Linked DNA regions of Homo sapiens. The protein of the gene in region 4 interacts with the protein of the main gene of each other region in a pairwise test. Each region holds a gene or a part of one and is shown on either strand. Other genes may lie near its edges.

Region 1 (7,781 bases), on a different chromosome or scaffold from region 4:
GTAATACCTGGGGGGTTTCATGTTTGTTAGTATCTGTCCCATCTACCTTGAACTTTGTTCCCCGACCCTAGGCCATCATCAACAGCACTGTCACTCCCAACATGACCTTCACCAAAACTTCCCAGAAGTTCGGGCAGTGGGCCGACAGTCGCGCCAACACAGTCTACGGCCTGGGCTTTGCCTCTGAACAGCATCTGACACAGGTGGGCCGGGTGAGGGGGAGAGTGGAGGGAACCGATGAGACTGGGCCCAAGTCTTCTCCTGGGCTCACTCTGGGATCTTGGGCAGGTCCCCTATCTTCCCATCTGCAGGATGGGATTGTAGGATGAGTTGAGACTGAAGCCCCTTTAAGCTTCCCCGGTTTGATTCCTAGTTCATTTTTCTGTTTTTTTTTTGAGATAGGCTGCAGTGATCTTGGCTCACGCAACCTCCGCCTCCCGGGTTCAAGCGATTCTCCTGCCTCAGCCTCCTGAGTAGCTGGGACTACAGGAGTCCGCCACCACGCCCAGCTAATTTTTTGTATTTTATTAGAGACAGGGTTTCACCATGTTGGCCAGGCTGGTCTCGAACTCCTGACCTGAAATGATCTGCCTGCCTCGGCCTCCCAAAGTGCTGCAATTACAGGCATGAGCCACTGTACCTGCTCTTGAGTCCTAGTTCTACTGCCTGTAGCTCTAATTTTGGACACACCCTGCTCCTCTTTGGGACATCAAATGGGTGGCTGGGCTGGGCTGGGCACTTTCCCACATGCCCCAGCAATACCTTCATCCTCACCTCCCTGCACCCTGTGCCGTCTCTATACTTCCATTATTATCTTTATCCGTGGTTTTGTTGATGATGAGTGCTTTCACGAAGATCTTCTTCTTTTTTTTTTTTTTTTTTTGGAGATAATGCCTTGCTCTGTCCCCCAGGCTGGAGTGCAGTGGCACGATCTCGGCTCACTGCAACCTCCACCTCCCGGGTTCAAGCGATTCTCCTGCCTCAGCCTCTGGAGTAGCTGGGATTACAGGTGCCCACCACCTCGCCCAGCTAATTTTTGTATTTTTAGTGGAGATGGGATTTTGTTGGCCAGGGTGGTCTTGAACTCCTGACCTCAGATGATCCACCTGCCTCGGCCTCCCAAAGTGCTGGGATTACAGGCATGAGCTACCACACCAGGCTTTCTTTGTTTTCTTCTAGAAGGTTTAGAATTTACCTTTCTTCTTTTTTTTTCCCTCCCTCCCTCCCTTCTTTTTTTTTTTTTTTTTAACAAGATCTTGCTCTGCTGTCCAGGCTGGAGTGAAGCAGTGCAATCATGGCTCACTGCAGCCTCAAACTCCTGGGCACAAGGGATCCTCCCACCTCAGCCTCCTGACTAGCTGAGACTATAGGCGTATGCCACCATGCCTAGCTAATATCTTTAATCTTATTTTTTTTAGAGATAGGATCTCACTATGTTGTCCAGGCTGTTCTTGACTCCTGGCCTCAAGCGAGCCTCTCACTTTGGCCTCCTAAAGTGCTGGGATTACAGGCTTGAGCCACTGCACCCAGACAATTTACTTTTTTTTTTTTTTTTGAGACGGAGTCTCGCTCTGTCGCACAGGCTGGAGTGCAGTGGCGCGATCTTGGCTCACTGCAAGCTCTGCCTCCCAGGTTCACACCATTCTTCTGATTCTTCTGCCTCAGCCTCCCTAGTAGCTGGGACTACAGGCGCCTGCCACCACGCCCTGCTAATTTTTTTTGTATTTTTAATAGAGACGGGGGTTTCACCGTGTTAGCCAGGATGGTCTCGATCTCCTGACCTCGTGATCCACCCACCTTGGCCTCCCAAAGTGCTGGGATTACAGGTGTGAGCCACCGCGCCCGGCCCCAACAATTTACCTTTCTAATTTAGGTCTTTTTTTTTTTTTTGGAGACAGAGTCTAGCTCTGTTGCCAGGCTGGAGTGCAGTGGCCCGATCTCGGCTCACTGCAACCTCTTCTCTCCAGGTTCAAGCAATTCTCCTGCCTCAGCTTCCCAAGTAGTTGGGATTACAGACACACCACACCTGGCTAATTTTTGTATTTTTACAAAATTTTTGTTTTTTTAATTTTTGTATTCTTAGCAGAGACAGGGTTTCACTATGTTGGCCAGGCTGGTCTCAAACTCCTGACTTCAGGTAATCCGCCTGCCTCAGGCTCCCAAAGTGATGGGATTACAGGTGTGAGCCACTGCACCCAGCCTAAAAAATCATTTATTTATTTATTTATTTATTTATTTTTTTGAGACAGAGTTTCACTCTTGTCCCCCAGGCTGGAGTGCAATGGTGCGATCTCGGCTCACCGCAACTTCCGCCTCCCCGGTTCAAGCAATTCTCCTTCCTCAGCCTCCCAAGTAGCTGGGATTACAGTCATGTGCCACCATGCCTGGCTGATTTTGTATTTTTAGTAGACATGGGGTTTCACCATGTTGGTCAGCCTGCTCTTGAACTCCTGACCTCATGATCCACCTGCCTCGGCCTCCCAAAGTGCTGGGATTACAAGCGTGAGCCACCACACATGGCCTTATCTATTTATTTTGAGACAGAGTTTTGCTCTGTCACCCAGGCTGGAGTGCAATGGCACAATCTCAGCTCACTGCAACCTCCACCTCCTGGGCTCAAGCAATTCTCCTGCCTCAGCCTCCCAAGTACTAGGATTACAGGCGCCCACCACCATGCCTGGCTAATTTTTGTGTTTTTAGTAGAGATGGGGTTTCACCATGTTGGCCAGGCTGGTTTCGAACTCCTGACCTCAAATGATCCGCCCGCCTTGGTCTCCCAAAGTGCTGGGATTACAGGTGTGAGCCACCGCACCCGGCCTAAAAAATTATTTTTAAACTAAGGAAATTTATTTTAAAACCGGGGTGGTGGGGGGAAACATATCCTATCCTAACTGGAAAACTGGTATTGCTTTGTCATAAATAGGTGGTAAATGTAAACATGTAAACATTTAATACAACAAAAACAAGAATGAGATGATTACTTTCTCATTGACTTCTGATGTCTCTCAGAGCCTGAGACCTAATCTCTTTGTTATAAAGGAATAATAACAGGTGTTAAAGACAGATTAGCACCCACCTGAGGCTCTCTTTGTTGAAATAGCCCTGATAAAGATTAAAAGGGACCCCACATGTTGGCTCATACCTGTCATTCTCACACTTTGGGAGGCCGAGGTGGGTGGATCACGGGGTCAGGAGTTCGAGACCAGCATGGCCAATATGGTGAAACCCCATCTGTACTAAATACAAAAATTAGCTGGGCGTGGTGGCACGGGCCTGTAGTCCTAGCTACTCGGGAGGTTGAGGCAGAAGACTCGCTTGAACCTGGGAGGCAGAGGTTGCAGTGAGCTGAGATGGTGCCACTGCACTCCAGCCAGGGTGACAAAGCGAGATTCTGTCCCCCCCCAAAAAAAAAAAAAAAAAAGGCTGGGTGCTGTGCCTGTAATCCCACCACTTTGGGAGGCTGAGGCAGGCGGATCACTTCAAGCCGGGAATTTAAGATCAGCCTGGCCAACATGGTAAAACCACATCTCTACTAAAAATATGAAAATTAGCCAGGCATGCTGGTGCATGCCTGTAATCCCAGCTACTCATGAGGCTGAAGCAGAGGCTGCCGTGAGCCAAGATCATGTCACTGCACTCCAGCCTGGGCAACAGAGCAAGACTCCATCTCAAAAAAAAAAAAAACAAAAAACAGGAAAAGGGCCATTCTGGGGAACATGGCTAGACCCCGTCTCTAGAAAAAATTAGCCGGGCATGATGGCACACACCTGTAGTCCCAGCTCCTTGGTGGAGGGGTAAGGTGGAAGGGTCACTTGAGCCAGGGAGGTCAAGGCTGCAGTGAGCCGAGATCATGCCACTGTACTGCAGCCTGGGTGACAAAGTGAGACCCTTTCCTAAAAAGAGGACATGGGAATTCCTTTCCCTTTCTCAATGTGGCCCAATGTATTTAAATGCCACCTCTGTGATCTGATGCCACCTGCCCACCCACCATGGTACATCATTTTTCAAAGTTTCTCTCCTTCTTCCAAGGTGTGTGATAAGGGGATGGGTACGGTTCGAAAGTGGCGGGGCTGTCACTGAGTGATGGTGACCTGTTTGGGAGGATGGGCTGGGGTTTTACTGTCTTTTCCTCCCCACTCCCTTAGTTTGCCGAGAAGTTCCAGGAAGTGAAGGAAGCAGCCAGGCTGGCCAGGGAGAAATCTCAGGATGGCGGGGAGCTCACCAGTCCAGCCCTGGGGCTCGCCTCCCACCAGGTCAGCACTCCCTACTCCCCTATGCCTGCCTGGGCACCTGTGAGTCAGCCAGGCGCTCAACTGATATTGGGGGACCTTGATATTGGGAGACCGGGGCACTCTGCTGGTCGTCAAGACCCAATGCTTCCAGATGACCTAAGGTTAGACCCACAGCAGGGACCACAGAGGAGTGGTGTGGAGTGTGTCATAGAGGGTCTGGACCTTGCCTGGGGCCGGTGGGGTACACCCAGTAGGTCCCAGTAGCAAAACCAGCTCAGATGGCAGGATGGAAGACTAGAAATTGAAATGGCTAAGTGTGGCCGGGTGCGGTGGCTCACGCCTGTAATCCCAGCAATTTGGGAGGCTGAGGAGGGAGGATGACTTGAGGCCAAGAGTTCGAGACCAGCCTGGCCAACATGGTGATACTCCACCTCTGCTAAAAAATACAAAAATTAGCCAGGCGTGGTGGCATGCGCCTGTAGTCCCAGCTACTCGGGAGGCTGAGGCAGGAGAATCGCTTGAACCCAGGAGATGGAGGTTGCAGTGAGCCGAGATCGTGCCACTGCACTCCAGCCTGGGTGACAGAGTGTGACTCTGTCTCAAAAAAAAAAAGAAAGAAAGAAATGGCTAAGTGTGAGGCAGAACAACGAACTGTCCCTGCGTGTTTTCCCACATTAATTTATTCAGCATTATTTATTGAGCACCTGCTGTGTACCAGGCCGAGGGCTGTGCACAGGGGTTGGAGAGATGAAAAAAAGCATGAGCCTCCAGCTGCTGCCTGCACTGGGCTGCGGTGGCGCTGGCCTCTCGCAGGGCACCCGCCAGCTTGTCTACCCTCAGAGCCAGTGGTCCAGGCAGTGGGGTTGCTCACGAAACACGAATTCGGCCTGGGCAGGGCTTCCTGCTGAAATCCTAAACGTGATGTTGAAGTTCGGCCTCAGGGAAGGGAACAGCAGGGAGGTGTCCGATTGTACCCCTCCCCTACCTTACAGGTTCTAAGTATCTTGGTTTAGACTAACCTGCATCAGACTTGCTCCTGGGGGTGGTGAAAGCCCAGGAAGGCAAGGTCGAGGGCGTGGGCATGGAACTCCCAGCTTAGGGGCCACAGGGAGCCATGGAGGGTGGGTGAGGTGGGGAGGGACACACTTGGATCCTGTGCTGTGAAGGACCTGCTTAGGGTGCATAGGTCAATTGCACCCCCGATGTGACGACCCCAGTCACATCAGCCTTGATCCCAGCTGATGTGGGGTCGTGACCTATTCTTTTCCCCGTGCCTAGGTGCCCCCGAGCCCTCTCGTCAGTGCCAACGGCCCCGGCGAGGAAAAACTGTTCCGCAGCCAGAGCGCTGATGCCCCCGGCCCCACAGAGCGCGAGCGGCTAAAGAAGATGTTGTCTGAGGGGTGAGGGGCGGGACTTGGGGGCGTGGCAGGGGCGGGGGTAGGGGTGGGGGACGAGGAGGCGGTTCTTGGAAGCCAAGGGAGTGCCAGGACGGCGGGATCTAACTGTGGACTCAAGACCTGGGGAAGGGGATGAGGATCTGAATGCTGCCCCATCCAGAGCCGACCCCGCCCCTACCCTGCGTTGGCCACGCCCCTCTGTTTTGACCCCATCCCTGTCTCTTCTCGCTGCTAACCTCGCCCCGTCGATGCCTCTCTGGTCTTAGGATAACCACCCTGACCACGCCCCCATCGGCTGACTCTCCCCAACCTCCCATCCCTCCCTCAACATTCCCACAGTGTCACTGGGCGGACTCCACGTGCCCCCTTCTTTGACTCGGTCCTCGACAAGACCCCGCTTCTGCGGGACTGCCCCATCCCCAAGCTCAGCAATCAGTGTCGCCACATCCCCAGCCCTGCGTGGCCCTGACTCCGTGCCCTAGCCCAAAGCCACCCCTCCTCTGGCCCCGCCCCCTAGCCCAGCATCGCCCGTGACTCCGCCTCAGCCCAGCGCCACCCACCCTGGCCCCGCCCCCTAACCGAGCATTGCCGCTGACTCCGCCCCCAGCCCAGTGCCACTCCACCCCTGCCCCGCCCCCTAGTCCAACTTCGCGCACGACTCCGCACCCTCGCCAGCCTTCGCCCTGACCTAAGCCCAGAGCTATCCCACCCCTGGCCCCGCCCCCTAGCCCAGCATCGCCCGACTCCGCCCCCCAGCCCCGTGTCACCCACTGCCGACCCTCGTGTCTCTGCAGCTCCGTGGGCGAGGTACAGTGGGAGGCCGAGTTTTTCGCACTGCAGGACAGCAACAACAAGCTGGCAGGCGCCCTGCGAGAGGCCAACGCCGCCGCAGCCCAGTGGAGGCAGCAGCTGGAGGCTCAGCGTGCAGAGGCCGAGCGGCTGCGGCAGCGGGTGAGGGCACCCCTCCCTCCGAGAGACCCCCACCTGGCCCGGGCAACTGTGGAGACCGCGCCTCGGCAGTTCCCATCTGCCCTGGGTTCATGGACTAGCTGTGTGACCTCAGCAGGTCACTGACCCAGCCTCAGTTTCTTGCTCTGTAAAATGGGTTTGAGACAATGCCAGCCTCAGAGGGTGATCAGACACTAAAGTCCAAGCTGTGCAGAGGGGGGTGGTGGCACCAACCAAGGGAGATGGGTGCTCGGTCCTGGGCGTGGCCAGACAGGAGGCAGATTCCCTAGAGGTTGGGCGAGCAAGGGAGAGTGCAGGCGGGGGCGTCAGGGGCTGCTATTCCTGCCCTACAGGTGGCTGAGCTGGAGGCTCAGGCAGCTTCAGAGGTGACCCCCACCGGTGAGAAGGAGGGGCTGGGCCAGGGCCAGTCGCTGGAACAGCTGGAAGCTCTGGTGCAAACCAAGGACCAGGTGAGTGCCAAGTGTGGTTCCTGGGCCTCGCCTTCCCTCACCTCCTGTGGGAAAGCCAGGACCCCCGCAACAGACCCTGGGAACTCTTCTCCTCTAGGAGATTCAGACCCTGAAGAGTCAGACTGGGGGGCCCCGCGAGGCCCTGGAGGCTGCCGAGCGTGAGGAGACTCAGCAGAAGGTGCAGGTGTGTGTGGGCACAAGGAGGTGGGGTGACGGTGGGTGACAGTCACCTCAACAGACACTCAGGACAATATCTACCTAAGATGATAAAGTATTGGGAGGCCCAGTCCTGTGGAAGGCCTGATGCCCAGCAGGTGCCGCGTGAACAGTGGCTGTTGGTACAGTTTCATATCCATCTATGGGTTCAACAAGCAATGCTTGAGTTCCTGCTGTATTCCCATGCCAGACCCCGTCAATTCCTCCTGTTCTCAGCCTGAGATCACAGAGCCTGCATTGGAACTAGGTCTGGCTTGGCTTGGCTTTATTTTTTTTTAATTCTTTGAGATGGAGTCTCGCTCTGTTGCCCAGGCTGGAGTGCAATGGCACGATCTCAGCTCACTGCAACCTCCACCTCCCGGGTTGAAGCAATTCTCCTGCCTCAGCCTCCTGAGTAGCTGGGATTACAGGCGCCCGCCACTACACCCAGCTAATTTTTTGTATTTTTAGTAGAGACAGGGTTTCACCATGTTGGCCAGGCTGGTCTCAACTCCTGATCTCATGATTTGCCCGCCTCG
Region 2 (7,778 bases), on a different chromosome or scaffold from region 4:
ACTACAATTCAAGATGAGATTTGGGTGGGGACACAGCCAAACCATATCAACCAAGAGGTGACTGAAGCCAGACTTTCTGGTCCTTCATCATTCCTCCACTAAATGTTGCCATAAATCTATGGTAGAATAACATACCTTCTAGAGAAATTAGCAAAATGGACAAATGGTATAGAAAAGGAGAATAAGAGGTATGGAACTGATCTGGAGATTACTACAGGTACAAGAAGGTGTTAAATGGGATATTTCCTGACTCAGAGTTTTGTCCAAGGCCCCAAAGGTGAGAGCACAATGTTAAGTGTCTGCTGGTTCTAATGAGAGATGTTAGACCATTTACCCAGGGCTTACTAAATGATGAGCCAAAAACTCCTGTCACCCATGCCCGTTTGCCACTCTTCAGCTTATGTACAGGAGAAGGCAACAGTGAAAGAGGGTTGTTACAGTTCTGGAAGCTTCCTTCCCACCCCCACTCCAAGGCAAGTGAGGGTGACTTTGAGAGAACCACTCAGAGAGATTGACAGGTGCCCCTGTTGTAGAATGGTGTCTGACTCTCCAAAAAAAAAAAAAAAAAAAAAAAAAAAACAATAAATAGGCGAGAAGCCAGCTAGAGCTACCTAAGACCAACTGTGAAGATGACGAGAAGGGCTGCAGAGGGAACAGCCCTGCTTCCAGGGCTGGGCGGGGAGCAGGGCCGCTGGGTTGTTCCCATGGGCTAAGTGCACATCAAGCAAGCAGCTGGGCCTAGGCTGTCTTGGAAGGACCCTGACCAACAGGCCTGCAGGTGAGGTAACCCGACAGAAAAAGTTTGTGTGGGATGTGCTACCAAAAGCAGGAGCCAGCGGTTAACCAGAGGGTGCAGCATCTGAACCATGGAATGGGTAATAAGGGGCTACCAGCAAAGGGAGGGTCCTCCAAAAAATCTCCAAAGTGGGCCCCTCCAAAGAACAAAAGAGGTATTAGGTTGGTTTAAGCAATCTGTGGCCCACCAGCCAGGGACTGCCTGACCCGTTGAACTAGCTCTTCTGGAAGCCTCTGGGGATGTTCACTGGAGATACCATGTTCGCTGCTTCTCTGTCATTTCACCTGCATAAGTCTGAGAAATATGTTGCAGAACTTAAACATAAAGTTTCTGTTTCTATAATGTATGACTTTTTGTTCTATTTCCTAATATTCTGTAACTCCTGAGATTTCAAGGGAACTCTTCATCGTTTTAATCCCATGCCTTATGTACTGTGACTTATAAGAACATCCCCAGTTAAGCCCAGTGTCTGGTCCTGGTGTTTTATCAGGAAATGAACACCGGCCGGCACCTCAGAACCCAGAAAGAGGCAGTTTCTATGACCTCATTCCATGGAAAACATCTGTAACTGTTCCCTCAGCAATGTGTAACATTAGCCTCTGGAGAAGGCCCATAAGATTTTGTCTCTCTTCCGTGGGAATTTGCAGGAAAGGGCTGTCTGCATGAGCTCAGAATATCTATTAATATATTGCCACTCAGAGACTTAATAAGGATTGAAAAGAGGTTTCCGCTGCACTAAGGGAAATTTATCAAAGAGAATTCCAGAGTATTGAAGCAGCTGAAAGATGATTTTAAAACAAAGGCCTGAAAACTATGCATGATAAATTATCATAGATGTGAGTACTTTTATAGGTATTCCATTTTTAAATTGCCCAAAAGAACAAACTTTTCAGCAACCTCTTTAGAATCCACTGGCAGCCCTAGATTCATTCCAGATGAACTCAGCCAGAAATTTCTACAGCAATGAGCATGTTCTATATCTGTGCTATCCAATATGGTACCCACTAGCCACAGGTGGCTATTGAGAACTTGACATTTAGCTAGTGCAACTGAGGAACTGAAGTTTAAATTTTATCTGAATAGCCACATGTGGCTACTGTAGTAGACAAGGCAGGACTACGCAGTAATTATAGCTTGCCTCTTAGTTGAAATAATGGTCTTATCCTTCACACCAGAGAAAACACTAGGTTGTTTTTGATTTTAGACTTTTGAGTAATTTCTGTTTTTTTCTTCAGCATAGAGTTCATGAGAAATTGATTATAATATGCCTCAAAGCTCTAATGACCACTTCTGTAGTAACTTCTAGTTTCCAAACTGACTCCTTCAGATTGAGCCTTTCATAGTTTGAGTGCCATTGTTTTGACAAATATCAGATATTTTAAGAATTGCATGTTACAAATCTGATCACAAAGAAAGTATTTTTCCTAGGTAACTGTCTAAAACTAGAGATGGTTGGTCTAGGAGCCAATAGTCCTTCGGATTTTTAAATCAGTGTTTACAAAGTGGGGCAAGAGTACTCATAAAATGAACCAAAAAAGTAACAATGAGAAGAGAAATACCATTAAAGCATGTTAAATTAAATAAGCAGGAGGCTATTGGCTCAAGGCTGTCTCTGTACTTTGATTTTCTACACAATGAATTGCAATTTAACTTAGTACATAAATACACTGAAAGCTTAACCTAAGGAAGAGTATAATAAACAGCCAAGTCTCAGCCAAACACAAGCAGACAAGCTTCAGCCAATCACAAGCTGCCAACTTCTCAGATCATATCCAAATGATCTGATCATTGATTGCAACCAATCAGCCTATTTCTGTATTTTACTTCCATTCTCTGTCTATAAATACTCACGGCCCACAAAGCTCTCTGAACCTATTCTGATTCTGAGTGCTGTCCGATTCATGAATCATTCTTTGCTCACATAAACTCTGCCAAATTTAAATTACGTCAATTTTTTTTTATTTTAACAGGCAAAAGTAAAGATTATCAAGCATTCTTTTCCAACCAAACTTTAGTCAGTCTCCTGACTAGGCCTATCTGTGCACTTCCTTGTAAAATCCAGTTTTAGCAAAAAGCCTTGATAAATCAGTTTAGCCAAAAGCAACCACCCTCAATATCTGATCACCCTTAATATCTGATTTGGTTCCTCATCCTCCACCAACCTCCAGGTGACATCTGATCACCCTGGCCCGTCTTCAGCAAGAATCTTGTCAGGTTGGTTTAGACAGAATCCCCCTTACCCCTGATGTTTCCTCTTAATAATTTTCCATCCACTGACCCCCCTACCTTGCTCCTTGGCTATAAATTCTCACTTTTCCATGCTACAATTGAAGTTGAGCCCAATCTCTCTTCCCCACTGCAAGACCCTGTTGCAGTGGTACCTATGTCTATCTCAATGGTCCTGAATAAAGTCTTCCTTACCATGCTTTAACAAGTGACAAGTGTCATTAAATAATTTTTTTTTTTTGAGACCAAGTCTTGCTCTGTCGCTAGGCTGGAGTGCAATGGCTCGATCTCAGCTCACTGCAACCTCCGCCTCCCGGGTTCAAGCGATTCTCCTGCCTCAGCCTCCCAAGTAGCTGGGATTACAAGCACGTGCCACCACGCCTGGCTAATTTTTTGTATTTTTAGTAGAGACGGGGTTTCACCGTGTTAGCCAGGATGGTCTCGATCTCCTGACCTCATGATCCGCCTGCCTCGACCTCCCAAAGTGCTGGGATTACAGGCATGAGCCACCACGCCCAGCCAAATAATTTTTTCTTTAAAAAGGTATTATATAATCCTTAAACATTTTAGCCCTATAATAGACAGCAAGAAAAAAGTAACCCCTGACAGCTCTGAGCTGCCCCGGCAGTCACAGCTGGGCCTTGGTGCTGCGTGGAACATAAATACTTCACAGAACACCATCAGACGTGGCCACTCTTTGACCAGATGGATCAAGACAAAAACAAGACTCCTTCGTAATCACGTGGGAATGCTGAAAAAACGTAAACATTGTCCAAACCACAAAAATGACCAAACATCCCCTATCCCAGTTAATGAGTCACTGGTCTTGTCTCCCCTCCTTTTAGGTAAGATTTATTATGATACTTAATCATACAATCGCCCTCCTTCCTGCCAGCACCCAGTCCAGAGTATTGGATTGGATACTCTGTTTCCCTGAACCTTTCCCCAAATTACCTTGGGGTAAGGCATCAGCAAAGGAGGCTGTCACATTCGTTCAACCATCACTGTGCTTTTACTGGCCCTTTGCAGGCAAAGAATGAGAATATGCACAGATGAGAAGTCCAGGATGCACAAGACCACTCAATTAACATTTACTACTTTCATATCAACTGATGCATGCTAGGATGCTAAAAACACTTTTTGAATTAATTACTGCGTTAAATAGATTCACATTTATGTCTACAGTTATGTGAACATCTAGCTGAGCACTGTCTTGACTGTCCTGAGTAGAAGCAGAAAAGATAAGTTGTAAAGTACATCAACAAACTTTGCTGCTAAAAAACGAAAGTGCAGTTTCTTTCTCTCGGGCCCGGGGCGGGGCCATGGCTCCTCCTCTAGGAAGCCGCGCGAGCGCAGTCCCACGGCAGCCATTTCCCTAGCGCGCATGCACTGGGTCCCAGGACCACGTGCGCCGGCCTGTGGGCTTGGATTGGCTGAGCCTTGACGTTGTCCCAGTCCCGGTGATCGGAAGTTCTCCGTGGGCACTGGGCGGCTGAAGGCTCCGGAACTGCGCCTGCGCTTTTCGGTGAGTCATGCTTCAGGTTTGCCAGGGCCTGTGTCCCGCAAAAAGGCGAGCCCTTATTCCCAGCGGAAGCCCACCCCGGCTCGCGGCAGCTTTCCGGTGCGCCCTGGGCGGCGTAGATCCGAAGGTGCTCGCACCCCCGCCCCTTCCTCTCCGACTGTCGAGGTCGCCAGAGTGGGCTGAACCCTCGGGACTGTCGCTGTTTGTGTGCTGGGTGCCGGGCCGTCATCCCAAGATGATTAGCGGCAGGCTTTGCATGTTGCTCGACCCCACCCACCGGAACTCGAACCCGGGCTAGACCGGGCAGTTGGGCTGGTCCCTTCCTCTCGCTGCACCTTTACTAGGGGTCACCATTAAGGGAAATGGTCCTAGTGCAGTGCTGAGTGGCTGTTCAGTAACCGCTACACCGCTGCCAACATTTGGCATCGTTTCTCTCCATAGAGGGCGGGGCTCCCTGTGAAGCTGGGGAGCTGTTAAGTGGGTTAGGGCTAGAAAGTTACAGTTTCTCTTTAGGCTTTAAAGAGATCTAAAGATCTGAACAGATCTAGGTTATTTTTGACTTGTTACAAACTTCTGGAAACATTGTTTCCAGACCTTTCCTCTCGTTCTTCTCAGGGTTTAGGCCATTTTTGTGCAGATGTGTGCACCTTGCTTACTATAATATTAGCTAATCTTTATAAGTTTTTATATGGATCCAATACCATATTTCGTGCCTACTTTTCCTGGCACTGTATACACTTTTTGGTATAGGTATGCACCTAAGCAAGCATTATCCATATTAGCATCAGTTCTAGAACCGTGGCGTCCCAATAATGATAGCCATTAGTTACATAAGGCTTGATCACTTGAAATGTGGCTAGTCCGAATTGAGATGTGCTGTAAGTGTAAGACACAGTGAATTTTCGAGAATTAGCATGAAAAAGAATGTAAAATATCTCAATTTGTTTATATTAATCACATGTTGAAATGACTATTCTGGATACACTGGGTTAAATAAAATGTATAATTAATTTCACCAATTTTTATTTTTTAACATGACTACTGGAAAATTTTAAATCATATTTGTGGTTTACATGTTATATATATGTTGCACAGCCCTGCTCTAGAAAAGGGTCAACAAACTATGGCCTGCAGCCAAATCCAGCCTGCCTGTTTTTGTAAACAAGTGTTACCAGAGCAAGATCATGCCTATCCATTTATGTTATTTTCTGTATCTGCTGTTGCTGCTACAATAGCAGCAGAGTTGAGTAGTCCATAGAGATTGTATGGCCTACAAAGCCTAGAATATATACCTTCTGATCTTTAACAGAAAAAGTGTGCTGACCCCCTGCTGTAGAACAATGCCTGGTTTGGTAGATATTTTTAAGCCTTTTAATTGTAGATTCACATCCTATTATTCACACTTACTGTGTGACAGCCATAGTTCAAAGCACTTTATCAAGACTTTCATTTAATTCTCATTAATCCTAGGATGTTGGATTTCTCCCATTTTGTAGATGAGGAAATTGAGGCACAGAATGGTCAAGAAACTTATCCAACTTGCTCAGCACCCCTCACTTCTGGGAACTGGACCTGCTTGACCTTCCTTATGCAAATGTTTTGACCCCTCAAACCCACTTCATTAGCCCACAGTGGGCACCATGGTTTTTTTGTTTGTTTGTTTGTTTGTTTTGTTTTTTTTAACAAGATTTATTTGAACTAGAATTTTTGAATGATTTTTTTGAACTAGAATCGAGATGGGCTTGGTCTCCTACGAAAGAAGCCAAGGGGCACTGGGCTTAGGTGCAATGAGTACAAGCAAGCTGGTGTGTAGTGAAAAGAAATGAAGCTCCCAAGCAGAGAAGAGAGAGAGCATCCTGGATGCTCATTACTCATTTAACAACAACAAAAATGTGTTAAGTAATAGTAAGCACTGACTGGGTGTTTGCTAGGTGTGTATAGGTGAATAAAACATGTGGATCTTCTCTTATGGTCTTGTGGGGAAGGCAGTAAAAACGTTTTTTAAATGTGATTAACACCATGAAAAAAACTTGCAAATTATTTACTGTTTTTAGCAGGTTTCCTCACCTGTAAGATGAAAATAAGCCATTATCTGTATTGCAGGAGTATTGTGAGGATTGAGATGACTGGAGTGTGTGTGGCCTGGAGAGTTGCTCAATAAATATATGTTGCCTTCCACTGTGAAGAGGTAAGTGAGAGGGTGAATATCAGGAATTGTGTACATTATGACACTTAAAATATTACAGTTGTCATTTGTAATTTGTAGAGAAGGTTGTCAGCTGCATTGTACACAGTAGGTGTTTTAAATCTTTTCTGACTGAATGGGACTCATCTAGAAAAGCCAGTCATAGAGTTGTCTGCATTCGGTCCAGGAGCAGAACCAGAGCTGTCTTTGGGGCTGATGGCAGCCTAACTGGCAGGTCCTGCTGGGGTGTGGAAGAGGGTTGTATGCCTGTGTGTGGTTTAAATCAGAGTCACCCTGGAGAGCTGAGCCAATATGCAGGCCCTACCCTCAGAGATCCTAATTCATCCTATCTGGAGTGAGGCCCTGCCATTGTTTGTTTTTGTTTTTTGTTGTTTAATTTCCCCAGAGGATTCTAATGTGCAGCCAGGCTTGAGAACCACTAATGGTGAGAGATCAGCCAGGCTCGGGATGCTGCTTGAGCAAAGGCACAGAGCCGTGCCCATCAGTGGTTGCGAGTAGTCAAGAGGGAGGCCTGCTAGGGCTCTTTTTGCCACTGGCCAAGGAGCTTTGGCTCCATCATGAAAGCAAGGGGAAACCTCTCAAGGGCTTTCAGCAGGAAAATGAGGGAGTATCTTTCTGAGATCTGTACTAGAGGATGATCCCTCTAACAAAGTGCCAGACTCACAGTTGGGCCTTGTGAGTGCCAGAAGTACAGTGAAGGCAGTAAAGAAGCAAATTGTAGCTGTCCAGATGATGGCGAGCCCAGATAGGGTTTGGTGCCATCCTGCGTGTGTTTCCCCTAGCAGCCAGTGTCTGTCCATGTTGAAATTCCACATGTGTTGTAACTGGCCAGTTTCTTGTCAGTATTACTCCCACTAGGCTATCAGCTCCTTCAAGGCAGAGACTGTCTCTTTAGGCTCAGCATCTAGCACATACTCAATCCCTAATATATATTTATTGAATGAACTATGTAGAACTAAGCTGGACATATGCCTTACCTTGTCTTTTTATGGCAATTGTCAGAATTTTGTATTTCAATGGCTTCCACA
Region 3 (7,781 bases), on a different chromosome or scaffold from region 4:
GGTCCTCAACCTGCGCTGAACGTTAGAATCACCTGGAATGTTTAAAAAATAATCTCAGGCCAGGTGCAGTTGCTCACACCTGTAATCCTGTAAAAAAGTTGCTCACACCTGTAAAAGCACTTCAGGAGGCCAAGGTGGGCGGATCGCTTGAGCTCAGGAGTTTGAGACCAGTCTGGGAAACACGACAAAACCCCATCTCTACAACAAATAACAAAACTTAGCTGGGCATGGGGGTGCATGCCTGCAGTCCCAGCTACTCAGGAGGCTGAGGTGGGAAGATGGCTTGAGGCCAGGAGGCAGAGGTTGCAGTGAGCCACGATCACACACTATTGCACGCCAGGACGACAGACGGAGCCAGCCCCCGTCTGAAAAAAATTAAAATAAAAAGAATCCCAATGCCCAGGCTGTACCCAGAGGACCTCAATCAGCACCTGTGGGTGGGGCCCGGGCATCTGCATTTTCTAAAGCAACCTAGATGAAGCTCATGCACAGCTAGGGTTAAAGTGAGTGCACCAAAGCAGGATCTCCTGCACTGCAGCCACCTGAGCATCTCCAAACACACATCCTGACCCTGGAGGTCAGGCAGGCCTGACACGCTGCATTTCTAACCGTCTCCCAGGGACATTCTTAGTGACTCGAATGTGTAGCCAGGCTTAGGAGGCACAAGCCCAGGACTGTGGTTCTTAATGTGAGGTCCCCAGATCAGCAGCCTCAGCATCGCCTGAAATTTGTAAGAAATATAAATTCTTGGGTGGCATCCCAGGCCCAGAGACTCAGGGGTGGGGCTGGAAATCTGTGTCTTGACACACCTTCCAGGTGGTTCTTGTAACACTCAGGCTTGGGAAGCACTGGCATAGAGCAGCAGACAGAGGCGGGCCCATGTCCTGCCCAACTCAGACTCCACCAGCAGCAGAGAGAGCGACTCTCGGTGTTTTTGGAAAGCATTTGCACCAGCGAGCCTTCCCTGGGTCCAGAACAATACCCGTGACATTCATAGGTAGGAGGGAGATGGCACATGTTGAGAAGGAAAAAAATGTCATGACTAAATCATAGAGATGGGGAAGCTGAGGCTGAGGGAGACATGGCCTCGAACAAATCTGCAGCCTCAGGCTTGGGATAACAACTCTCACCCTACTGCCCTTCCAGACTCAACTCAGGCACTGCCTACCCCCAGAAGCCTCTGCCGCTCCTTCAGGGACACACACACCTGCCCTGCCCCTCCTCAGGTCCCTGCCCTGTGGTGCTCCCATTCAGGACCCCCACTGTGGCATGAGAAACCCTGAATTATTCCATATATCTCGGTTTTGCATCCCTGTTCAGACTCCTTATTCTTCCTGGTAGAACATAGGACATCCTATTTCTTGCATTTTCATTTTTATGTGTTTGTTTCTTTTTTTCCAATCTTCCACGTTACCACAAACTCTGTACTGCGTACATACTCAATGCTCAGCAAATACTTAAGGCTGATTCACTGAGGTTGGACCTGAGCTTTTCTGTCTTTGTGCCTTGAACACGGTCTGAACTTGGCAAATGCTTCTCCAATGACTGAACGAATCAAGCCAAGGAAAAGGGAGCAGTAAAAAGATAGTGAGGAATTAAGCAGACTGGAGGGTACTCATCTTTCCATGGGCCTTTCTTTGCACTTTGCAATGAATGCTACTCATTAAATCGTGGTCCAAAAATGCCTCCCAGTCATGACTGCTGGTATCGCTCCATTATTCACTGCATTCAACACCATCATCTTTCTCATATGAAACACTGGCAGTCTCTTAAGGAGCAATGACAAAGCCAACCACAAAACAAAACTGATCAAGGAATTAGAACAGGCATGTTTTAATGCTAATTGTAAAGGGAGACTGACCTGTGGACATGAGGGTCTCACGGAAAAACTTTCCTTTAACTACGTCCAATTCTAAGGTCTTGCAATGAAACAGGCATACGAAATAATGACGGTAAACAAAATTACCAAATACTACCGCATTTACTTGCACAGGTCATTCATTCCACAAATATTTATTGACCACCACGTGCCAGCACCATTTTAGTCACTGGGCACATGGCAGTGACCAGCATGGACACAAACCGCTTCCCATATGGAACTTACACTCCAGACCAGTGCTGCCTGCCCAATAAAGCTTTCTGCACTGATGGAATGTTCTGGATTTACATTGTCCAATATGGTGGCGACTAGTCCCAGGTGGCTGTTGAGCCCGTGAAATGTGGCTGGTACTGGTTCGTTGCCTGTTAGGAACCCAGCCACACAGCAGGAGGTGAGTGGCGAGTGAGTAAGCAAGCAAGTGAAGCTTCGTCTGTATTTACAGCCGCTCTCCAACGCTTGCATTACTGCCTGAGCTCTGCCTCCTGTGAGATCAGCAGCAGCATTAGATTCTCATAGGAATGCAGAGCCTACTGGAAACTGCTCATGCCAGGGACCTAGTTTGCACACTCCTTATGATAATCTAATGTCCGATGATCTGTCACTATCTCCCATCACCCCCAGATGAGACCGTCTAGTTGTAGGAAAACAAACTCAGGGCTCCCACTGATTCTACATGATGGTGAGTTGTATTATTACTTCACTATATATTACAATGTAATAATAATAGAAATAAAGCACACAATAAATAGAATGCGCCTGAATCATCCCAAAACCATCCCTCAACCCTGGGCGGTAGAAAAATTGTCTTCCATGAAACAGGTCCCTGGTGCCAAAAAGGTTGGGGACCATTGGTCTAGAGGACTCACCCATTGAGGCAGATGTAAAGAGAATGGTGGTGAAACAGTTTCACTGACTGGTACAGACAAATCATTCCTCTGCCTGCCTTCGGCTGTGCACCTATGACCCCTGTTATGCTCCAAGAGAAGTGAACACACATATCCTATGGCAGGAATACACCTTAGACTTCAGAGCAACTTCTATACATCTTACTAAAGTCTCACCCTAGGCCGGGCACAGTGGCTCACACCTGTAATCCCAACACTTTGGGAGGCCGAGGCACGCAGATCGCCTGAGTTCAGTTCAAGACCAGCCTGGCCAACATGGCAAAACACTGTCTCTACTAAAACCCAAAACATTAGCCAGGTGTGGTGGTGTATGCCTGTAATCCCAGCTACTCGGGAGGCTGAGGCATGAGAATGACTTGAGCCCAGGAGGCAGAGGTTGCAATGAGCCAAGATCACTCCACTGCACTCCACCTTGGGCTACAGGGTGAGACTCCATCTCAAAACAGATAAATAAATAAATAAAAACAAAAAAATAAAGTCTCACCCCCAAACCCACCTCCACAAGCTGGGAGCTGCTCTCCCAGTTGACCAGCAGAGGATGTTACCTCAGAAGACACTCACTTCTTCAGGAAGGACTGACAGGGTAGGGGTGAAAACATAGGCAGGCATGCCAAGTGGCAGCCCTTCCTGGAGCATGGAATCCATGCACCGACTGAGTAGGACCAGGCACACTTCTTCTTTTTCTTTTGAGATGGGGTCTGGCTCTGTCAGCAGGCTGGAGTGCAGTGGCACCATCTTGGCTCACTGCAGCCTTGACCTCCGGGGCTCAAGCGATCCTCTCACCTCAGCCTCCTGAGTGGTGGGACCACAGGCGTGCAGCACCACACCTGGCTAATTTTTGTATTTTTTGTAGAGACGGGGGTCTCACAATGTTGCCCAGGCTGGTCTCAAACTCCTGGGCTCAAGTGAACCTCCCATCTCGGCCTCCCAAAGTGTTGGGATCGCAGGCGTGGCCCCCACATCTGGCACAGGCATAGGCACACTTCTGGTGGTTGAGTGTGCTGGAGGGTCCGGGACCAGGCGGTCACTGGCAAGGAGAGATGGTTTGGCTTGAAGAGGATGCCTAGAGCGAAAGTGAGTCCAGCCGTCCACCCAACCCAGGCAGGCAGCCGGGAGCGCTCTCCAAGGTGCTGAAGGGACTGCCTCTCTTCTCTCCTCCTCTCCTCTCCAGACTTGGAAGACAGCACCTTACTCAAGTTCGAGCCAGGACCCCAGTGCAGCGGTGGCTCCATCCACCGCATGGCCTCTCACAGCCATGAAGCTACCAGCGGGGGAAGCGGCCAGTCCACGGAGACACGGACCAATGTGGAAAATTCACACCAACATCACCCTCTCCTCTAGTACTCACAAGTCTTTTTGTCATCTAAGGACACAAAGGGCGTTACATTCAACATTATTAGCTCACAGTTGAGAGCTCGTCATATTTAGAGTTGTGGAGGCTTGGGGAAAACAGGAAGAAAAAGTCTTGGAAAGGAACAGCAGAGGCTCCTGCCCCCACCCCCACACTCCACCCCTTCTTGCTCTCTCCGGCTGGGTGTCCTCAGAAGAGAAGGGGTCAGAGTTCTCTCTCTCCTTCTCTGTGTCAGCTGGGGCTGCTCACTCACTACTCCAGATCGCTGCTGTAGGCGGGTGCCGGTCCTCACTCCCCGGCCAGCTCATCTCAGGATTCCTCACACAAAGCCCATCAAACGGCCTCACGGCCAACGTGGGTAGGGGTGCCCTTCAGCCACATTTGTTTCTCAGCTATAACTGGCAACAAAAAAATAGCTGTTTGCTTCTTCCTTTCTCTTTTCACCTTACGGAGCCTTTCACCACCCGCCCCCCGAAGTAGCGGAAAGAGAATCTCGGAGAAAACGCTTTCGTCTCCAACTGCTCAGGGCTTGCTTCTTGTTTCTGAAATGAGTTTCTGTTGGCATAATCTCCGCACCAATGAACCTGATTCCTTCTAACCTGGGCACTCATTTGAAAAAGAAATTACTTGTTGCATAGTCATAGTCATAGCCAAGCACAAAGCATACGCCCCATGGTAGTTTATTTTGTTGAGATGAGGGATTTTTCTCCCTAAAAGGGCACTAACAGCATAAACGTGTGTTTAAAATGGAAACGAAGCACACCACTGCCTCTGTCATCTGAGCTCCCCGTTTACAGGCCTGGTGGAGATTCAGAGTCCTTGGCCAGTGGAGAGCAAGCAAGGCCGCAAGGGCGCAGTGGCTGCGTTCTGGGGGACGGGGTGGAAAATGTCTCCGGGTGGCAGGTGTTTTGTGCGCGTGTGTGTGCGCAGGCGCCTGGGGGGATCTGAATTCCGACTGTGGGTGTGTGTGATTTGTGTGGGTTGAGGAATCTGGGCCGGTGAACGGGACCTGAGTATGAGGGGGAGAGGCTTGGGCGTGAGATGACTCATATCTTTCAGGGTGTAGGAGGGCTTATTGGAGGGGGTAACTTTCGATTCGAGGGGTTCTGTGTACACAGCACCCGAAGGAAAGATCTATACCTGTGCGGTGCAGCACCGGCATGCATGGTGGGCCTCAGGGGGCCAGGGGTCCTGGGCAGTGTATGGGTTTGCCCGTCTGTGCATGGGCATTCACCTGCAATTCTGGGCCACTGTACGCACAAGAGAACGAGAGATATAAACGAGAGGAAAGAACAGGAGGTGTTTTTGCACAGGGGCATTTAGAGAGCGACGTACCTAGCAAAGGCCCAGGCTCTGGGATGGCTGTCCTGAGTGTGACGCCTGCTGGTTCCTCCCAACCCACACCCACTGGGAGCCTCCACTTCCCAGTGTGGAAAATGAGAATAACAAGAAAATCACCCTCTAGAGGTGTAAGAATTAAGGGCTGTAATTCATTTAACACTTGCCACATGCTTGGCAGACAGTAAGTATCTAATGTTGCTATTTAACATCATTTACATGATCACCAGTCTCCTGTCCAGATGTTGGTTCTAATAATGATCATTGTAAGTGACATGCATTGCCTGGAAACTGTAATGAAAAAACTAACGGTAAATAATAATGTATGCTTACTATATTCCTGGCATAGCCACGCACACCATTCTCAATTAATCCTCACCCACCTTACAGGTATTGTTATCAACCTTTTGTAAAGATGAAGAAACAAGCTCAGAGAGGTTAAGTAATCCAACCAGGGTCACAAAACAGGGCATGTAGGGCAGGGATTCAAGCCCAGGATGCAAGCTGGGGTTGTGACTGGAAGCAAGTGTGCCTGTACCCCACACCCCCAGGCCTCACCATGCAGACGGTAGGAGCTACTCAGCTCAATCAGGGAGTACCCTAAGGGGAGGACACACCTGGAGGAGGAGGAGTTGGCACAGGTGTCCCCAGCTGAAATTCCACACCAATTCCAGCTACATGTGGAATACGCTGGCCGCTGGTGCATCATTCATGAAAATCGCCATTTCCCCAAGTCAGCGCCCAGAGCTGGGCTGAGGTTCCAGAGCTTCGCTGATGGCTGCCCAATATTCCCCCACTTCTTGTGCAAAGGAAAAGTCAGAGTGGAGCTGGGGCCATTAACTCCTTCCTCACTGCGACATGGCTGTCACCACCCACCAGTTGACTGGGAAGGAGGCATGGAGGTCTCTGCCCCATTCTGGCGATCCCCACACCCTGCAGGCTCCTTCCATGGGCTGCCTGGGGACACTCAGTGCCATAATCACCCCCTTCCCAACAGGAAGCTGGGAGCCCTCCAGAAAAGTGGCCCAGATGTCCAGGCCCGAGTCCTCAAGACCAGAAGGGTCAATTCTATTTCCTGTCATGCCATGTTGCCAACCAAAAGGGAGAGCCGGCCATGAAGCTCCCCATCTGCATCCCTGCCTGGCTTTGCTTATGGGAGAGCTAAGAACCGCATACCCCTTGAGAGGATGTTGACAATCTGGGCTTCTTCCGGCAATGTGATGCAAGAACGAGGGGGGTTTGGTCCCAGACAGATCGGGGATCCCTGCAGCCAAAGGCTGGGACTCCTGAATCACAAAGCCCGGGCCTTACTGGCCTCATCTGTAGAATGGACATGATCAGGCAGGACCACAAGGAGGGGAAGGGCTTAGGGGAGCAGGATGCTGAGGGAGCTGTCTGGCTGGAGTGGAGAGCCCAGGGAAGTGGACCTATAGAGAAAAACATCTCTCCCCTTAACCCGTCAGATCCTAAACTACACGGCCAGCCACAGAATCAGATCCTTTCTTCCCTAAAAAGTCACAACATAATCGCCGCTCCTTCTCCCTCAAATGTAAGCTCCGTGAGGGCAAAGATCTGTGTCTGCTTTGCTCAGTGTGGTTTTTCCAAAGCCTAGGACACCTGGCTGTCTGCTTTGCTCAGTGTGGTTTTCCCAGAGCCTGGCACACCTGGCTCATAGCAAACATTCCATCAGTATTTGTTGAATGAAAGAAATGATTCCTCAGGACTCTGGAGATGTCTGAGGAGCGTGGGCAGAGTGGGGTGCTCAGCCTCACCCCCAGATATTCTGAGGAGTTTCAGAGACAACGAAAGCCCTGGCTCCTCTCGTCCCCATGCCCTGCGTGAGCCCGGCCTGCACAGTCCTCCTGGAGCAGGCTCAGCCAGGAGCACCTCTGGAGGACAGGTCTGCAGAGCCTCCTGGCCAGAGCCTGGGGGTGATAGCAGCCCCTGGGCTCCAAACAGCCCAGCTGGAAGCGCCAGGCTGCCTGCCTGTCTCAGCCACCCACATCTGCTGCCCGGGCCTCCCTGTGCCTGCACGCGCGCGCACACACACACACAGGCCCACAGCCTGGAACCAAGGGAGCACCGTCTGCTCCCGCCCGGCCCTCAGCGCCCCAGGGTCAGGGAAGCTCTCCAACCTGCTCCATGAAAACAACAACGGCACAGAAAAGGCCGCCTGAGACCGGGGCTGGGCACGGCTTTGACAGGCAGGAGCATTATATAATTAACTGCCCCAGACTCCTCCTCCTCTTCGGGTAATAACGAACCCTGCTTTTCAGTTGCATAAGCCAAAATAATAATTACTCTCCAG
Region 4 (8,285 bases):
GACAAGTGCCCAGCCTGGCTGGGATGAGCCCGTAGGCCTCTTCAGTAACCATGGCAACGCTCTAGGACGCACCCGGCATCCTTTGCATGGAGTCAAGAGAGGATACAATGTAATAGGAGAGACCCTTGAAGAAGAAGCTGCTTCCTTCCCTCATGCCCAGTGCCAACCTCAGGTCAGTCTCCATCTGGACATCTGCAGAGCATGAGCTCCAAGTGCAGAAATCGTGTCTGGGCTTTGTCCCTTCCCGCCGTTCACTATCCCCTCCCCCCGCCCCAACCTGAAGGCTGAGCACAGAGGACCACCAGGGAGGAGGCCCGGACGTTGAGCACCCAGGGTTAGCAGCCGGCAGACTGACACAGGAATCCCAGCCCTGTCATGTGCTGGCCGTGTGACGCTGGCTGTCACCTAGCCCAGGCTGAGAGCCTGGTTTCCTCCTCTCACAAGGTGCAGCACCACATCCGGAGGGCTGCGGAGGGGTTCGGGGAGGAAATGCGTGGCCGGCTTGGGCACCAGGTCTGGCACTGAGTGGTGGGACTGGGCTGGTGACACTCAGTAAGACAGTGGTGGATTGACTTAGAAGGGGCCTTTCATCGTTTACTTTCTATCCAAGTAGAACACAGGGCTGGGGAATGCTGCCCCCACCCCAGCCATTCCTGAGCCCCTAAAGCCCAGGAGCCCCTCACAGCCACCGGGAGAGAAAAGCTGCCAGCCTCCCGCTGACAGCCCGTCTTCTGTTCCACCAGGATCTCTCAGCATTTGATCCTGCATTCTGAGGTGGCAGCACCAGGGCTGGCCCTATCAGAATCTGACATTTCGAAAGCTGGTGTCTGGGTCTGCCCAGGTTCTCATCAGCTCCAGCCAGCTGTCCCTCCAGCTGCACCTGGAAGCGGGGCCGAGGCTGCCCGCTAGGTGCTGGAGTTTAACACACTCCTCTTTTATTTTCCAAGGAACTTCCCATCACACAGGGCTCCTCACGCCAGGAAACTCGGCTGTTGGGGTGGGAAGGGGAGAAAGGGAGGTGGAAGGGGGACAGGAGGCAGGAGGGGGAGATGGATGGGAAGAGGGAAGAGGGTCTGAGGATGCCTGAACTTCAACCCACTGGTGCTCATCCAGCCTCCCGGGAAAACAGCCCTGCAGAGCCCCATGCAGGAGGAAATGGATTTTAACTGGATTCACAGAGAGCAGGTCAGACCTCCATGAGAATTCCTGATGGTACAGGATCAACTCAGCCCTCCCTCCTCACCTTACTGTCCAGCCACCTGTGGGTCCCTGTGCCCCGAACACCCTCCCTGGGCCTCACTGTCCCATTCCCTGCCCGGAAGTCCTCCTAGCAAAGCTGGCCCTGAGCCTCCCCACACGGCACACCTGTGCCCTCCTCAGCTCCCTTCAGGCTGGTGCTGTTGCACCTGTGCGGTTGGAGGGTCTTCCTCGGGGGAGGGGGCCTGAGGCCTGCAGGGCCTCCCCAATCCCCTCTCCTGCGCCAGATCCTGAATGAGGGGACGGGGACGGTTGAGTCCTGTCTCACCAGCACGTGGCCACACTTCAGACCACTGACTTATCTGTGGACCACCCATCGTTAACGCCCTCTGAATTAACTCAGCTGTTTTGTGTGGCGCCTACTGAGCAATGACACCTGTGAGATCAATGGCTGTGCCAGTCATTCTTGCTCAGGGGAACATTAGAGTCACAGGATGGTTTTCTGTGGTGGGGCACCCTTACCTGCTGCAGGATGCTGGCCTGTGCCACCCCAGCTAGACTGGTGATGCAACGTGGAGCAGGGTCCTTACTCCATGTCTCCCCACCTGTCACTGGGGACCACGGCATGCTCCTACATACACAGAGCAAGCACGTAATGAGTGGCTTGTGGCTGCAGCAGAAACCTCTCCAGCTGTCCCTATGGCCCTCCCAGTGCCCTCAGCACACCCAGTTCCTACACGTTCCTCCAGAATAGCCCCTGGTTACTCTCAAAGCCCTTCACAGGCATGATCTTCCGGGGTCCTCAAGCACACCAGTGAGATGGACAGGCAAATGAAGAAACTGAGGCAGGCAGTCCAAGTGGCCCAGGGTTTCCCAGAAGCCCCAGCTCATTCCTCCAAATCCTTGGGCTCGCTGGTCTAAAGCCTGGTGATTACCAGGCAGGTGGGCTGTTCAGACCTGTGCACAGTAAAGAGCTGCTTATAGTGGAGGTGCTGGATACATGTGCCCCAGCCTGGAAAACAAGCCATGCCAGTGAACGTCCAGGTCGACTTAGGCCTGGCACAACTGTCGCCTTCTCAGACCTCACCCAAGTGCCCTCCACTTTGGGCAGGATACCAAGGAATGAATGGCAGGGCCTGCATTCCTGGACCTGGGCACTACGTATATTTTTAGCCTCTGCCTTCCTGGGCATTTGCAGGGTGGCTAATGTTCTCAGGGAGCCACCAGCTGCACACCCACGGGCTGGGCAGGCACTCGGAGGTCTCTGGGAACTGCACCCTCCCTGCCTTCAGTCCGGGGGCTCAGAGGCCAGCTCCTTTTCAAGGCAGAATCAGCTCCTGCTAGTGAAGCATGCACCCCACCCCCAACACAGCCAGAAGCCTGTGGCTCAGAAACTAGGAGGCATGAAGTACAGGATTTGTGACCTTGGATTTCCTTACTTGGAAAATGGGGTGGGGTGGGGGGACAGAAGGACTTTGACTCCACATGGGATCACCAGGCCAGCTCACTCAGGAGACCTGGTTGGCACCTCCTCCTGACAGGTGCACCCTGTATATCCAAGTGGGGAAGGATGTGCTGTGTTGAGAAGCTGAGAGTCTGGGTCGCGCTTCCCAGGGCCAGATGCCCCAGTCGCTGGAGACCTCTCCTCCCTGAGCTGGGCTGACTCCATGGCTTTGCTGTCTCTGTTCTCTTCCTGCATATGATGTTCCAGGAGCCAAGAAGCAATTCTAGAATGTACAGGTCAATCTTGGCAGATGAAACTGAATTTTCCCTCTTCTCTTCTGCTTCCTGTGTCCCCTTCCTTAAACTCATCACTGTTCTCTTACTGGCCATTGCCGGGCTCTGGTGGGAGCAGGTTGGCTTCACCTTTGTGAAGAGACAAGAGACAGTGTGATGCGGCCCCAAGCCTGTGGAGGATGCCACCAGGCCAGACTGCAACTTCTCTGCGTGACTCCCCCGTGCTGGGCCTCTGTTTCCCCTTCTGTCAAATGGGGAGTCACAGCGTCTACCCTGCAGGGCAGGTAAGATCTTCTTATTATAGTCAGAAACACATTCTAGGTCCTTACCAAGTCCACACTTACACAAACAGGTGAATTAAATATTTCACAAAATAATACTTACTTTCACCATGCGAGATACTATTATTTTCTTTTTTTCCTTTAGAAATAGGGTCTTGCTGCCACCCCTGCGTGCAGTAGTCCAATCACAGCTCATTGCAGCCTCCAACTCCTGGGCTCAAGTGATCCTCCCGCCTCTGCCTCCACCTCCCCAGGAGCTGGAACTACAAGTATGTGCCCCCACACTCGCCCAATTTTTTTTAAAGTTTTTTTTTTTTTTGTAGAGATGGGGTCTCCATATGTCGCCCAGGCTGATCTCAAACTCCTGGCCTCCAGTGATCTTCCCGCTTCGGCCTCCCAGAGTGCTGAGATTACAGGCATGAGCCACCCACCACGCCATCTGATATCTTCTAGCTTATTCTATTTCATTTTTATTATTATTTTTCTTGAGACGGGGTCTAGCTCTGTCGCCCAGGCTGGAATGCAGTGGTGAGATCTCTGCTGACTGCAATCTTCACGTCTCAGGCTCAAGCGATTCTCCTGCCTCAGACTCCCGAGTAGCTGGGGATTACACGTGTCTGTCACCACGCCCGGCTAGTTTTTTTGTATTTTTAGAGTAGAGACAGGGTTTCACCATTTTGCCCAGGCTGGTCTTGAACTCCTCACCTCAAGTGATCCGCCCGCCTCCGCCTCCCAAAGTGTTGGGATTACAGGCGTGAGCCACCGCGCCCAGCCTATTGCATTTTTATAGTCACCACCCACTACTTTTTTTTTCCAGGACCCAATATTGGTCCGTGATCTGATGATGTTCACGGTCAAGACGGAAGCAAAAAAAGCACACACCGCGCGCCCTCGGTCACTAATCACGCGGAGTATACGCGAGGAGGGCCCGCAGCTAAGCGACGGCGGGCGGCCGAGCTTCCTCCACGGCCGGGGAGGTGGGCAAGGCCTCCGGGCCGCAGCCCCGGGTACGAGCGGAGGCTCCGAGGCCCCCGGTAGCCAGTCAGAATTTATTTTAAGGGAAATGGAAAGCTGCGGCAGGCTTTGGGAGGAGGGGCAGGATTAAAAGAGAAAGTGTGCTCAGCATGTTATATTTAGAGGCTGCCACGCCGGAAGCGCCGCCTTCCCGGGAGCTGCCGCCGCGCCCGCCCCCCGCCGGCACCTGGGCACTGGGGCGGGAGTCCCGGGGCTGCCCGGGAACACCCGGCGCCCAGGGCCTCCGCCACTCCCCGGTCCCCCATGAGGGTGAGGGCTATAGGCGCATCTGGCCCAAGATAGGGGAGTCGTCCGGACCCCACTTCTGTAGGAGGGGAAACTGAGGCCAAGGGGGCAAAGCCCCCGTGTTCGCGGCGCCCAGGGTCCGGGGCGGCGCCGGCACGCGCGCGGGCGGGGCCTGGCGCTCCTCCCCGGTCCCGCCCACTGAGCGTGCAAACCGCAGCCGCCCGCCCACGCGCACGCGCGCTCCTCCCGGGCCGCTTCCCACCCCTCCCCCCGCCCGCTCAGTCTCGTGCTCCCAGCTCCGCGAGGGGCCCGCCGGGAGCCGGCCGAGGGTGGGGCGGATCGCCGGGGAGACCCGCCCCCGGCCAGCGGCGCCTTGCTGCGCAGGAACGACGCGAGGGCCCGCCCCCCAGCTGGCGGCCCGGCCATATTTAAAGGACGGCGGGCGCGGCGAGCCAATGGGCGGCGAGCGTGAAGGGGCGGTGCGTGGCGGTGCGTGGCGGCGCGAGGCCCCGGATGTGGCTGCGGCGGCCCCTCCTCCCCCGCGCTCCTCTCAGAGCCCCAGTCGCGCGCCCCTTCTTGGTTCGCTCGGTGCCCGCGCAGGCCCCTCGGGCGGTGGCGAGGAGGCGCCCAGGCGGAGGCGGCGGCGGGCGGAGGAGCGCAGGAGCGGGCGGCCAGGCCACCGCGCGGCGGCGGAGCGGGCCGCGGCCCGGCGCTCCTTCCCCACCGCGGCCCGACGCACCCCGGCCGCCGCCATGAGCGGCTCCTCAGGCACCCCGTATCTGGGCAGCAAGATCAGCCTCATCTCCAAGGCGCAGATCCGCTACGAGGGCATTCTCTACACCATCGACACCGACAACTCCACCGTGGCGCTCGCCAAAGGTAGCGGCCGCCGCCCGCCCGAGCCCGCTGACCCCCGTCCGCCAACAGCCCCGGCCTGCGGTGCCCTCCCCGCCCCGGGGCGCCCCGGAGCCTGGCGCCCAGACCCCGCCCAGAACCCACCCAGGGCACACCCGGCCCGAGATCCCCTGCCCGCGCCTTCACCCCGGACGCCCCCGAGGCGCCCCCTTCCCGCGCGCCACCCTCCCCCAGCGTAGCCGGCCGCACAATGGTCTCCCTGGGCTCCCAGGGCGGCGGGATTGTGCGCGGGCGCCCGGCGGTGTTTGGTGAGGGGCGGGCCCGGCCCCCGCGGTGCCGCCCCCTCGGCCGCCCAGCCCACCTCTGCAGGTGCCAGCTCCGAGGAGCAGGGCGGCTCCCGTCAGCGGGCCTCCTCCCCGCCAGCCTGGGGGGATCCCTGCGGGGGAGCCTCGAGGTCGGGTGGCGGGGCCAGTGTCCCGGCGTCTCCCGAAGGCTGGGGGTGGGGTCACAACACGCGAATCCTGCAAGCCTTTCTGGAACTTATTAGACAGCTGGGGCCTTGATCCTGAACAAATACCGCGTCCTAATGCGGCCTCCTGCCAAGGCAGAAGCATCCGTTGGCAGCCAGATGCCCCGGTTTAAACGGTTCTCCTGCTCTATCCTGACCTTCCCACTGTGGGGCTTACCTTTTGGTGACAGCCGCCTGTGGGTGCTCGTAACCGGCTGTGGCCGCTGGAGGACTTACAGGAGGGGGGCTCTTTAGAGTCAGAATCTCTGAGGTTGTTGAGGCAGCGGGTGGTCCAGAGTTTCTTTGTCTTCATCACCCAGAGAAGACGGGGAGTGCACTTCCCCTGCCTCTCAGAGAAAAGTGCCCGTGGAGCCACGTCTGCCTAAGCCCGTGTGTGTGCTGGATCTGGCGCTAGGCTCCCAGGGGTTCTTGAAGTGTCTAGACGCGTCTGAAACGCTGCTTAGGTCACAGGGAACTTCATGTGTAGAAGAACGCACTCATTCCAAACAGGGAGTGTCTCCTTTTGAAGCCCGTCTCCTGCGTGGCTTCAGGAGCTTGTTGAGTATGCCAGGGCTATGCACTCACTTGCAGCCATGGAACCTCACTACACTTATTACAGGAGAGCCCAGTTAGAGAAGCTGAGGCCCAGAGTAGGCCCAGGAGTTAGCAGGAGTTGTGTCTTACCAGTTAGAGGCTGCTGTCCCACCCACCTCTGCCCCTAGAGGCTTGCTAGAAAGAGACTTGGGCGCTCCTGGAAGCCTGCTGGTTAGGGGTTAGTAGACTCAATTCCTTATAGATGCGGAAGCCGGGGTCAGAGGTCCATAATCCTGGGACCCTGTCTCCCTTTGTTTTCTGTTACAGCTGTTCCAAGGTTTGTTATGGATAGAAGGGTAAGGGCAACACTCGTCTAGATTCCTTTGTGAGAAAACTGCCTCCTCAGGCGCAATGTGCGGTGAGGCTTTGGGCATAAAGCAGCCGGCTGGCTGTTGGATCTACAGAGTCAAACGTGAACAGGGAGGCCTTACGAAGCAAGCCTTGTTTTGCTGAGAGCTCTGTACGTTGGTGCCTTCGCACATCAGACTGTCAGTCTGTGAAATTGTTCCTTGTCATCTTTGTGATCTAGAGCTGTCTGTTGTCTGGAGCTTCACCAATTGGTGCATTATCAGCACTGTCCATTGAAAATCGGGGCATTAAGTAGTTGTTGAAATGTGGACCTGGGGTGCTGTGTTGTGGCTCTGAGCAAGTGTCGCCGTCTTTTGGAAGGCTTGGGAGCAGTGGTGTCAGGGTTGATTGAACTGGCTGAGGACAACAATAACGCTTCTCTTTCTCCACTCATAAGTGAGGTCCTTTGGCACTGAAGACCGTCCCACAGATAGGCCTGCGCCCCCCAGAGAGGAGATTTATGAGTACATCATTTTCCGAGGAAGTGACATCAAGGATATCACTGTGTGTGAACCTCCGAAAGCTCAGCACACACTCCCGCAGGATCCCGCCATTGTTCAGGTAAGTGTGCCACTGTCCCTCTGTGCATGCTGTAGGAGATGCTGGTTTCCATTTGGAGCTTGGTGGCATGTTTGGTCAGAACGCTCAATGTGAGGAATAACCTTTTTTTTTTTTTCTTTGAGGCAGCGTCTCGCTGTGTCACCAGGCTGGAGGTCAGTGGCGTGATCTCAGCTCATTGCAACTTTGGCTTCCCAGGTTCAAGCAATTCTCCTGCCTCAGCCTCCCGAGTAGCTGGGACTACAGGGACGCACCACCATGCCCAGCTAATTTTTGTAATTTTAGTAGAGACGGGGTTTCACCATGTTGGCCAGGATGGTCTCAATCTCTTGACCTTGTGATGCACCCGCCTTGGCCTCCCAAAGTGCTAGGATTACAGGCGTGAGCCACCACACCCAGCCTGAGGAATAACCTTTTAATGAAAAGTGGCTTAACTTTTGTCCAGGCTGTTGCTGCTCTCACAGAAGGTGTTGATTCTTGTAGCACACACAGTAGGTGGTGTGTGCTGTGTCACGTGGCTCTTAAGGAAGGCGACCTGGGGAGTTGGGTGTGCATGTGCGCGTGTGTAGTGTAGTGTGGTATGAGTGGATGCTCCTGGACCTGTGATGTTTCGGGCATAGCGTTTGCCCTTAGTTTCTGGTTGGAGAAGTCTGAGCCCTGAGCAGCTGCTGTGAGTGGCGTGACCTACCTGCAGGGACTGCAGGGCTTGCCCTCGGGTTACGCCCAGTCGTTACATGCTGCTGTTATACAACACCAGATTTGCAAGTCTGATGCCATGTGCCTGCTTATTGGGTTATGGCTTATTTTGCCCATGCTCCCCCAGGGAGCCCAGATTAATATTTTCTTCACTTCTAAATTTAAATATTCACTAGCTCCTCTGGGGTTCAGACTGCATTAGGTTCTGTGCTGAGCACCCATCCTGGAAGGTGGGATCACACAGGGCCGGC

What was found.
Region 1: the proteins of LSM14B (region 4) and HOMER3 interact in binary tests that used the Homo sapiens proteins (3 or more experiments, as listed by UniProt).
Region 2: the proteins of LSM14B (region 4) and TCEANC interact in binary tests that used the Homo sapiens proteins (3 or more experiments, as listed by UniProt).
Region 3: the proteins of LSM14B (region 4) and JPH3 interact in binary tests that used the Homo sapiens proteins (3 or more experiments, as listed by UniProt).

Annotation. Positions count from the first base shown.
Region 1 is NC_000019.10:18,930,775-18,938,555, reverse strand, and holds part of HOMER3 (homer protein homolog 3), read left to right. Parts: intron 1-71; coding exon 72-203; intron 204-4,145; coding exon 4,146-4,253; intron 4,254-5,510; coding exon 5,511-5,632; intron 5,633-6,423; coding exon 6,424-6,580; intron 6,581-6,930; coding exon 6,931-7,047; intron 7,048-7,144; coding exon 7,145-7,231; intron 7,232-7,781. UniProt on the Homo sapiens protein: Postsynaptic density scaffolding protein. Binds and cross-links cytoplasmic regions of GRM1, GRM5, ITPR1, DNM3, RYR1, RYR2, SHANK1 and SHANK3.
Region 2 is NC_000023.11:13,648,642-13,656,419, forward strand, and holds the start of TCEANC (transcription elongation factor A N-terminal and central domain-containing protein), read left to right. Parts: upstream 1-4,499; 5' UTR 4,500-4,547; exon of another isoform or gene 4,548-4,798; intron 4,799-6,647; 5' UTR 6,648-6,732; intron 6,733-7,778.
Region 3 is NC_000016.10:87,604,727-87,612,507, reverse strand, and holds part of JPH3 (junctophilin-3), read right to left. Parts: intron 1-7,781. UniProt on the Homo sapiens protein: Junctophilins contribute to the formation of junctional membrane complexes (JMCs) which link the plasma membrane with the endoplasmic or sarcoplasmic reticulum in excitable cells.
Region 4 is NC_000020.11:62,117,440-62,125,724, forward strand, and holds the start of LSM14B (protein LSM14 homolog B), read left to right. Parts: upstream 1-5,035; 5' UTR 5,036-5,227; coding exon 5,228-5,354; intron 5,355-5,665; exon of another isoform or gene 5,666-5,784; intron 5,785-6,016; exon of another isoform or gene 6,017-6,245; intron 6,246-7,177; coding exon 7,178-7,341; intron 7,342-8,285. UniProt on the Homo sapiens protein: mRNA-binding protein essential for female fertility, oocyte meiotic maturation and the assembly of MARDO (mitochondria-associated ribonucleoprotein domain), a membraneless compartment that stores maternal mRNAs in oocytes.